2 linked regions of the Homo sapiens genome follow. The protein of the gene in region 1 purifies or fractionates together with the protein of each later gene. This does not show direct contact. Each region holds a gene or a part of one and is shown in the gene's direction. Other genes may lie near its edges.

Evidence for each region. Proteins that work in one complex are often made in the same cells at the same time.
Region 2: the proteins of PDS5A (region 1) and USP13 purify together in Homo sapiens (affinity purification with mass spectrometry; 2 studies listed by BioGRID, with this or other methods). This does not show direct contact.

What each region holds. Positions count from the first base shown.
Region 1 is NC_000004.12:39,866,236-39,869,986, reverse strand, and holds part of PDS5A (sister chromatid cohesion protein PDS5 homolog A), read left to right. Parts: intron 1-524; coding exon 525-593; intron 594-2,989; coding exon 2,990-3,126; intron 3,127-3,751. UniProt on the Homo sapiens protein: Probable regulator of sister chromatid cohesion in mitosis which may stabilize cohesin complex association with chromatin. May couple sister chromatid cohesion during mitosis to DNA replication.
Region 2 is NC_000003.12:179,781,889-179,785,639, forward strand, and holds part of USP13 (ubiquitin carboxyl-terminal hydrolase 13), read left to right. Parts: intron 1-2,159; coding exon 2,160-2,253; 3' UTR 2,254-3,751. UniProt on the Homo sapiens protein: Deubiquitinase that mediates deubiquitination of target proteins such as BECN1, MITF, SKP2 and USP10 and is involved in various processes such as autophagy, endoplasmic reticulum-associated degradation (ERAD), cell cycle progression or DNA damage response.

The sequences.
Region 1 (3,751 bases):
CAGGCATGCACCACCATGCCCAACTAATTTTTTTGTGTTTTTAGAAGAGGCAGGGTTTTGCCATGTTAGCCAGGCTGGTCTCAAACTCCTGACCTCAAGTGATCCACCTGCCTCATCCCCCCATAGTGCTGGGATTACAGGCTTGACCCTCTGCACCCGGCTGAATATCCAGTTTTTCTAGCACCATTTGTTGAAGAGACTGTTCTTTCACTAAAGATGGTCTTGGCATCCTTTGTCAAAAATGAATTACCATATATGCAAGGGTTTTCTGAGTTCTCTATTCCATTAGTCTATATGTCTATCCTTGCCAGTACCAGCCACACTGTCTTGATTACTGTAGGTTTTATAGTAAGTTTCAAAATTGGGAAGTATGAGTCTTCTAACTTTGTCCTTTTCCAAGCTCTGGTTGGTGATGTTCCCGTAGGTTTCTCAGAGGCTGTGTTGATCAACATGAAAAACTTAATCAGCAAAAACATAAATTTTTTTTTTCATGCTAATAGCTAAATTTATTCAATTGTCTATAGTCAACAGGTGAAAAGAATGGAAAACTGTGGTCTCCAGATGAAGAGGTTTCCCCTGAAGTACTAGCAAAGGTAAATTTGTTTAGGCCTTGATAATCTTCATGTTTAAAAAAGGGACATTTTGTAGTTATCTTCCTCACCTTTAAAAAATTTAATAAACAGAGATGGGATCTTGCTGTGTTGCTCAGTTTGGTCTTGAACTCCTGGGCTCAGCTGATCCTCCCACTTCAGCCTCCCAAAGTGCTGGGATTATGAGCTTAAGCCATCGTGCCTAGCTGGGAGCCTTTTTTAATTAAACCTAATAGTTAATAAGCATTTGTTAAGGAGGTACTTTATTTTAAAATCCATTGCAAAAAATGGTTTATTGAAGACATTGTGGTTGTCATTGTTTATTACATGTCAGTGTCTTCTGCCTGCTAAAGCAATCTTAATGAGGCTGTTTTATAGAGAGACTGTTTATAGAATGACGGTGCTCAGAGGCATCTTAAATCCAGCCTCATCACCACTATCTACAAGCATATGAATATTAACTTGGCAAAGATAGGTAATTGTCAAGCTGGGCACTGTGGCAGATTTGGGATTTAAAATAAGATTGTATCATCTTCTTTGATAATCTGTTTCACTTTGTGTTGCTTCATCATCATCATATATTCTATCAATTCATTTTTCCTGGTTGTCAATAAATATAATAAATAATACTTTGATTTGTTTTTCACACCTATTATCCCAGCACTTTGGGAGGCAGAGCAGGAGGATCGCTTGAGCCCAAGAGTTCAAGACCAACCTGGGCAGCATAGTGAGCCATGTCTCTACAAAATATTAAAAATAATTTAGTTGGGCTAGGCATGGTGGCTCACGCCTATAATCCCAGCACTTTGGGAGGCTGAGGCAGGCAGATCACTTGGGGTCAGGAGTTCAAGACCAGTCTGGACAACATGGTGAAACCCCTTGTCTACTAAAAATACAAAAACTAGCTAGGCATGGTGTTGCACATCTGTAATCCCAGCTACTTCGGAGGCTGAGGCAGGACAGTCACTTGAACCTGGGAGGTAGAGGTTGCAGTGAGCCAAGGTCCCGCCACCGCCCTCCAGCTTGGGCAACAGAGTGAAACTCGGTCTCAAATAATAATAATGATAATTTGGCCGGGTGTGGTGGTGCATACCTATAGTTCCACCTACTCAGAAAGCTGAGGCAGGAGGATCGCTTGAGCCCAGGAGGTCAAGGCTACAGTGAGTTGTGATCATGCCAGTACACTCCAGCCTGGGTGACAGAGCAGATAGAGATGATTGTTACTAAATTTGTGACATTTAATAGATGTAAAGCTCAGTTGAAAAGTGGCAGATTTGGGATTTAAAATAAGATTGTATCATCTTCTTTGATAATCTTTCACTTTGTGTTGCTTTGTAGTCATCATATATTCTATCAGTTCATTTTTCCAGGTTGTCAATAAATATAATAAATAATACTTTGATTTTTTGGCTAGCTTTTTCACATATATTGGTAACAATCTTTTGACTAGACATTTCTAAGTAATTATGACTACCAATAATTACACAAAATCCCATTTTTTTGGTCACAATGTTAAATGAGACTGAATCAGACTTGATGGTTTCTTCAAAGTAGTTTTTCAATACCACAAAACTGAAACTCTCAAGTTATTTTCAGTCACCACAATCAGTACAGTTGTGGGGTGTGTGTGTGTGTGTGTGTGTGTGTGTGTGTGTGTGTGTGTTTTGGTTTTTTTATGAAACAGAGTTTTGCTCTGTCACCCAGGCTGGAGTGCAGTGGCACAATCTCAGCTCACTGCAACCTCTGCCTCCCGGGTTCAAGCAATTCTCATGCCTCAGCCTCCTGAGTAGCTGGGACTACAGGCGTGTGCCACCATGCCTGACTAATTTTTTTTTTTTTTTTTTTTTAGTAGAGACGGGGTTTTTTAGTATAGACACGGTTTCACCATGTTGGCTAGGCTGGTCTCAAACGCCTGACCTCAAGTGATCCACCTGCCTTGGCCTCCCAAAGTGCTGGGATTACAGGCGTGAGTCACCACCCCCGGCCTGTATAGTTTAAATTGTTGTTTTTAAAGTATATGTTTTCAAATAGTTTCAAAATCTTGCACAAACATCTAAGTATGAGAAGCCTAAATTCTGGAACCAGACTTTTAAGCAAGTTATCTATGATAATAATGTGTCTCAATTGCCTTATCTGTTGGAAAAAAAAAAATCTTCCTCATAAGAATTTTTTGGGAGATTAAATAAGTTAATACATTTACAGATCTAAGAAAAGTGCCTGGCACTGGTTAAGCACAGAGTAAATATTAGTTCGTATTGTTGCTGTTATTATCCCATAGACTTATTTAATAAAATGTCTGCTGATGGAGATGAGTAATCTCATTAATCTAATTAAATTAATTTTCCCTTTAATTGGAATTTTAAGTTGCTTTCTTTTTTTAGCATGTTAATATTTTATAGGTACAGGCAATTAAACTTCTGGTAAGGTGGCTGTTGGGTATGAAAAACAACCAGTCTAAATCTGCCAATTCAACCCTTCGGTTATTATCAGCGATGTTGGTTAGTGAGGGTGACCTGACAGAGCAAAAGAGGATCAGGTGAGATTTTTCTTTCTTTCCAGTTTTCTTAGTGCTGAAATTTTGGTGGAATTTACATAGGAATTATTTACCTAATGAATACTGAATGGTGTAATTACACCATGATCTTCAGGGTCAGATCTTATGTACTCATTTAGGGTTTGTCTGTCTGTCAGTATTGTTATTTTAATAGTGCCAATATATTTTTCTTCATTCCTAAAGAAGAGGAACTTTTTCCAGTAAATACATAATCATAATCACTATATTGTACTATTACAGTTAGCATCAACATTTGGTTCAATTAAACAAGTATTTGTTAAACTTCTACTTCATAAAACACTGTGAAAAGCATTGCAGCAAAAATAAGTAGGAAAAGTCCCTGCCTTCAAAGAGCATCCCTGTATTAAAGCGATTAAATAAGTGGAGTGACTTGAGTCCCATGAAAGTAATAAAAATTTAAGTGGCAGCCAGGCGCGGTGGCCTATGCCTGTAATCCCAGCATTTTGGGAGGCCGAGACGGGCAGATCACGAGGTCAGGAGTTCAAGACCAGCCTGGCCAATATGGTGAAACCCCGTCTCTACTAAAACAAAAAACAAAAATTAGCCAGGCATGGTGGCACATGCCTGTAATCCCAGCTACTCAGGA
Region 2 (3,751 bases), on another chromosome or scaffold:
TCTCCTAGGTACATTGTATGTTATCTTATTTGGTTCTCACATTGGTCTTGTAAAGGGTATACTGTTAACGCCCTTTTGCACATCAAGACACCGAGACTCAGGGAGGCTGAATAGCTTGACCTTAGCTAGTAAGTAGCTGTGTGAGAGCTGATATTCAAAGCCACTTTCAACTATCATACCAAGGTGACCTCCCAAAATAAAGATGCATCCTGCAGCAGAATGTATGCTGTAATTGGAACCTCCCTAGGATTGCCATATTTAGCCAACAAAAGGAAACAAGACAGGAAAAACCAGGATGCCCTATTAAATTTGAATTTCAGATAAATAATGAATAATTTTTTAGTATAAATAAATTTCAAATATTCTATGTCCCAAATATTATATGGGGCATGCTTCTACTGAAATTTCTTATTGCTTACCTGATACTCAGATGTAACTGGGTAACCTGTGTTTTATCTGGCAGCTCTAAACCTTCAGTGCTTTGCCTTACTACAGCCTTGCAGTTGGCTTCTCAGCCTTCTTAAGTAGAATTGTTAAGTGTGTAGTGAACCGGAAATGAGACAGTTGTGGAATGAAAGGCTGCTGCTTTCTTCAGAACCTTCTCCCTGGGCTGGATCCCTACAGGACCTACTGGTGCCCTTCCTGCAACTCCAAACTGAGTAGCCTGTGGGTTGGCACTTCTGCTTGAGGGCAGTGCTCAGGCCATGTGGATGCTGGAGAAATGCCTGAGGGTGGCCTCTTGCTCCATGGCTCCCACTGCAGGAGTGGCCATTTCCCACCTGGACTCCATTGTGTTCTTCTGTGGTGTGTCTTTTTAGTTTTGTCTTCTTAACTTGGTAAAATAGTTGAGCACAGGAATTTATCTCTTTTTTTTGAGATGGAGTTTCACTCTTATTGCCCAGGCTGGAGTGCAATGGCACAATCTCAGCTCATTACAACCTCCGCCTCCCAAATTCAAGCAATTCTCCTGCCTCAGTCTCCCAAGTAGCTGGGATTACAGGCATGTGCTATCATGACTGGCTAGTTTTGTATTTTTAGTAGAGATGGGGTTTCACTATGTTGGTCAGGCTGGTCCCAAACTCCTGACCTCAAGTGATCCACCCGCCTTGGCCTCCCAAAGTGCTGAGATTACAGGTGTGAGTCACCGCACCCGGCTGGGACTTAATCTTTGTGGTGAATTGTTTTTATTACAAACACGATAGCGCTTTAAAAAACACTTTATGGAATGAAGTCAAAGAAAATAAAATAAAAATGCTTTTTAAAAGAAAAATAGCTTAATTATAATTTTAAAAGCAATAAAATTCATAGTAAATAATTTATAAATATAAAAATATACAAAGAATATGTACCCTGGAAGCCTAACAATAACCATTGTCTACATTTTGATATACTTTTCTTTGTTTTATTGTCTCACTGGAAGAAAGTATATATATGTCTATATGCACACATACTACATATAAATAAACACACGTATTTACAACTTAACTAAAAGCTTAAAGTATGTGCAGAGTGCATACAATTTTTTAACCAGTAATTTCCCATTTCATATTATATCATGGTTATTTTCTCACTTTGCCAAATATTCTTTGAAGAAATTTTAATAGTTCTATAATAGTTCACTGCATGGATTTTTTTAAAATTCTGGTTTTAAGCTAGTTTTATACTAAGACTGAAATAAGCATTGTTGTACATAATTCTTTGACTCAATTTCTCAGGCTATCTATGGATTTCTATAAAGGGAGTTATGGGATCAAAGGTTAAAATGTTTGGAGGTTCCTGATACATTTTAGTAACTACTTTTTGATGGAGCTTAAGAATCAAAAAGCAGTTGTAGCTGGGTATGATGGCATGTGCCTGTGTTCCCAGCTACTCCAGAGGCTGAAGCGAGAGGATCCCTTGAGCCCAGGAGTTCGAAGCTTCAGATTGTGCTACCTTACTCCAGCCTGGGGAATAGAATGAGGCCTTGTCTCTTAAAAAAAAAAAAAAAAAGCAGTTGTGATTCCCTACCAGCATTCTGTCCCTTTTTATACAACGAACTTGAGTATAGTACCTTAAAACATCATGGTTAAGTGTTGTGCGCCATATGATTTAGTGACTTCTTTGTGTAAAGTTTCCTGGAACTGACTTAAATCCATCAAATGCTTCTGTCTTATTTTCAGATGGGTGATTTACAATGACCACAAAGTTTGTGCCTCAGAAAGGCCCCCTAAAGACCTGGGCTACATGTACTTTTACCGCAGGATACCAAGCTAAACCTCAAATATAAAAATTGGCGAAAAGAAGCCATACGCCTTTTTAATTTGCCAAAAAAAAAAAGAAGAAGAAGAAGTTGAAACAACTAGACATGAAGGAATATATGGGGTATTTATCGTTTATTTAAAGAGCACGATCAGTTGACACCTTCTGAAATAGAACTGAGAAGAAATTTCTATTAGTGATGATACACTATTATATTGTAGATAGTTTTTATAAATGTTCAAAAAGATGATGATATTTAAAAACAAAAAAAGTATTCATATTGCTGGTGGAGGATCTGCCATCAGCACATCAAAAATGGGGATGTGCCCCCAGCCCTCTATTTTGCTTTGGGGGTCAGTGATAGTGGCCTCTGGAGAAACCAAATAATGTGGCCAGTGGTGTGGCCTTACCCACAACAAATGAAAAGCCCACTTGTGTTTCATATAGAAAATCAGCAGTTGGGTGGGGCTTTATTTGTGACATAATTTTTTTCATGACATACAATAATTTCTGATGTATCCATGTAGATATTATGCTCTGTCCATAATAGAGCCTCTGCAATGAAAGATATTTTTAATTTGTCACATTAAAATTCATAATACGATTGTGTGAATGTGTGTGAGACTGACTGAGAGTGTGAGACTTTTACTAGAAAAGTGAGTCCACTAGAAAATCTGTGACAAGTTGGTTTTTAAAGTCTGAACAGTTGATATTAAGCATATCTGAAAAAAGCAAGTAAATATTTTAACAAAACTATGACTCAGGAACCTTCGAGAAGATTAGTTCCCCACTTAGATTTTTAAGGAGTAAAAAGGGCTGAGTTATGCCTTTAAGTGCTGTCAAGAATTCACTTGGGTTTGGGACATTTGCTGGTGTAATGCTAGATGCCCACAGCAGCATAATATTGTACTTTGTCAAAGGTAGGTAAATTCTCTGTTTCTCAGCAGCCCTTTCCCCAAAAGGTATGGTGTTTATTTTTAGTAAAAATAGCTAATCTCTTTTTACCATCTCACATGATAACTCTTTGGAGTCATGTCAAGTGCCCCAAATTTGTCTGTGATTTTCCCATCTCTGAGCTCTTTATCTGCCTCCGTTTCCTTGTTTTTCTGGGGCCAGAGTCTCATCTCTGCCTTTTTTTGGTGTATCACCTTCTGACTTGCCTTCATTGCTTGTCTGATGTGACCAACAGTGTGATCTTGGACACACTAAGGATTTTAGATGCAAAGAAACTTTATACAACATTATGAAAGACTATCCTTTCCATTTTGGTTATTTCAGCATTTTAGTTGCAACCTGGGATTAGATTAGAGTTTCCAACGTGATGAAAAGTGGAATGATAGCATTCTATAATTTCCATAATTTTCCTACTGGTCCGTACCAAATTCTAGAGTCTCTGGAGTTGCTATTTCAGAGTATTTGGTCAAACGAAAAAGAATTTATTGCTGTCTGTTTAACATGTATTTGTTTGGTTGAAAGGATCTTTTTAGAAACTGTAGGAAAATAAACAGAACCA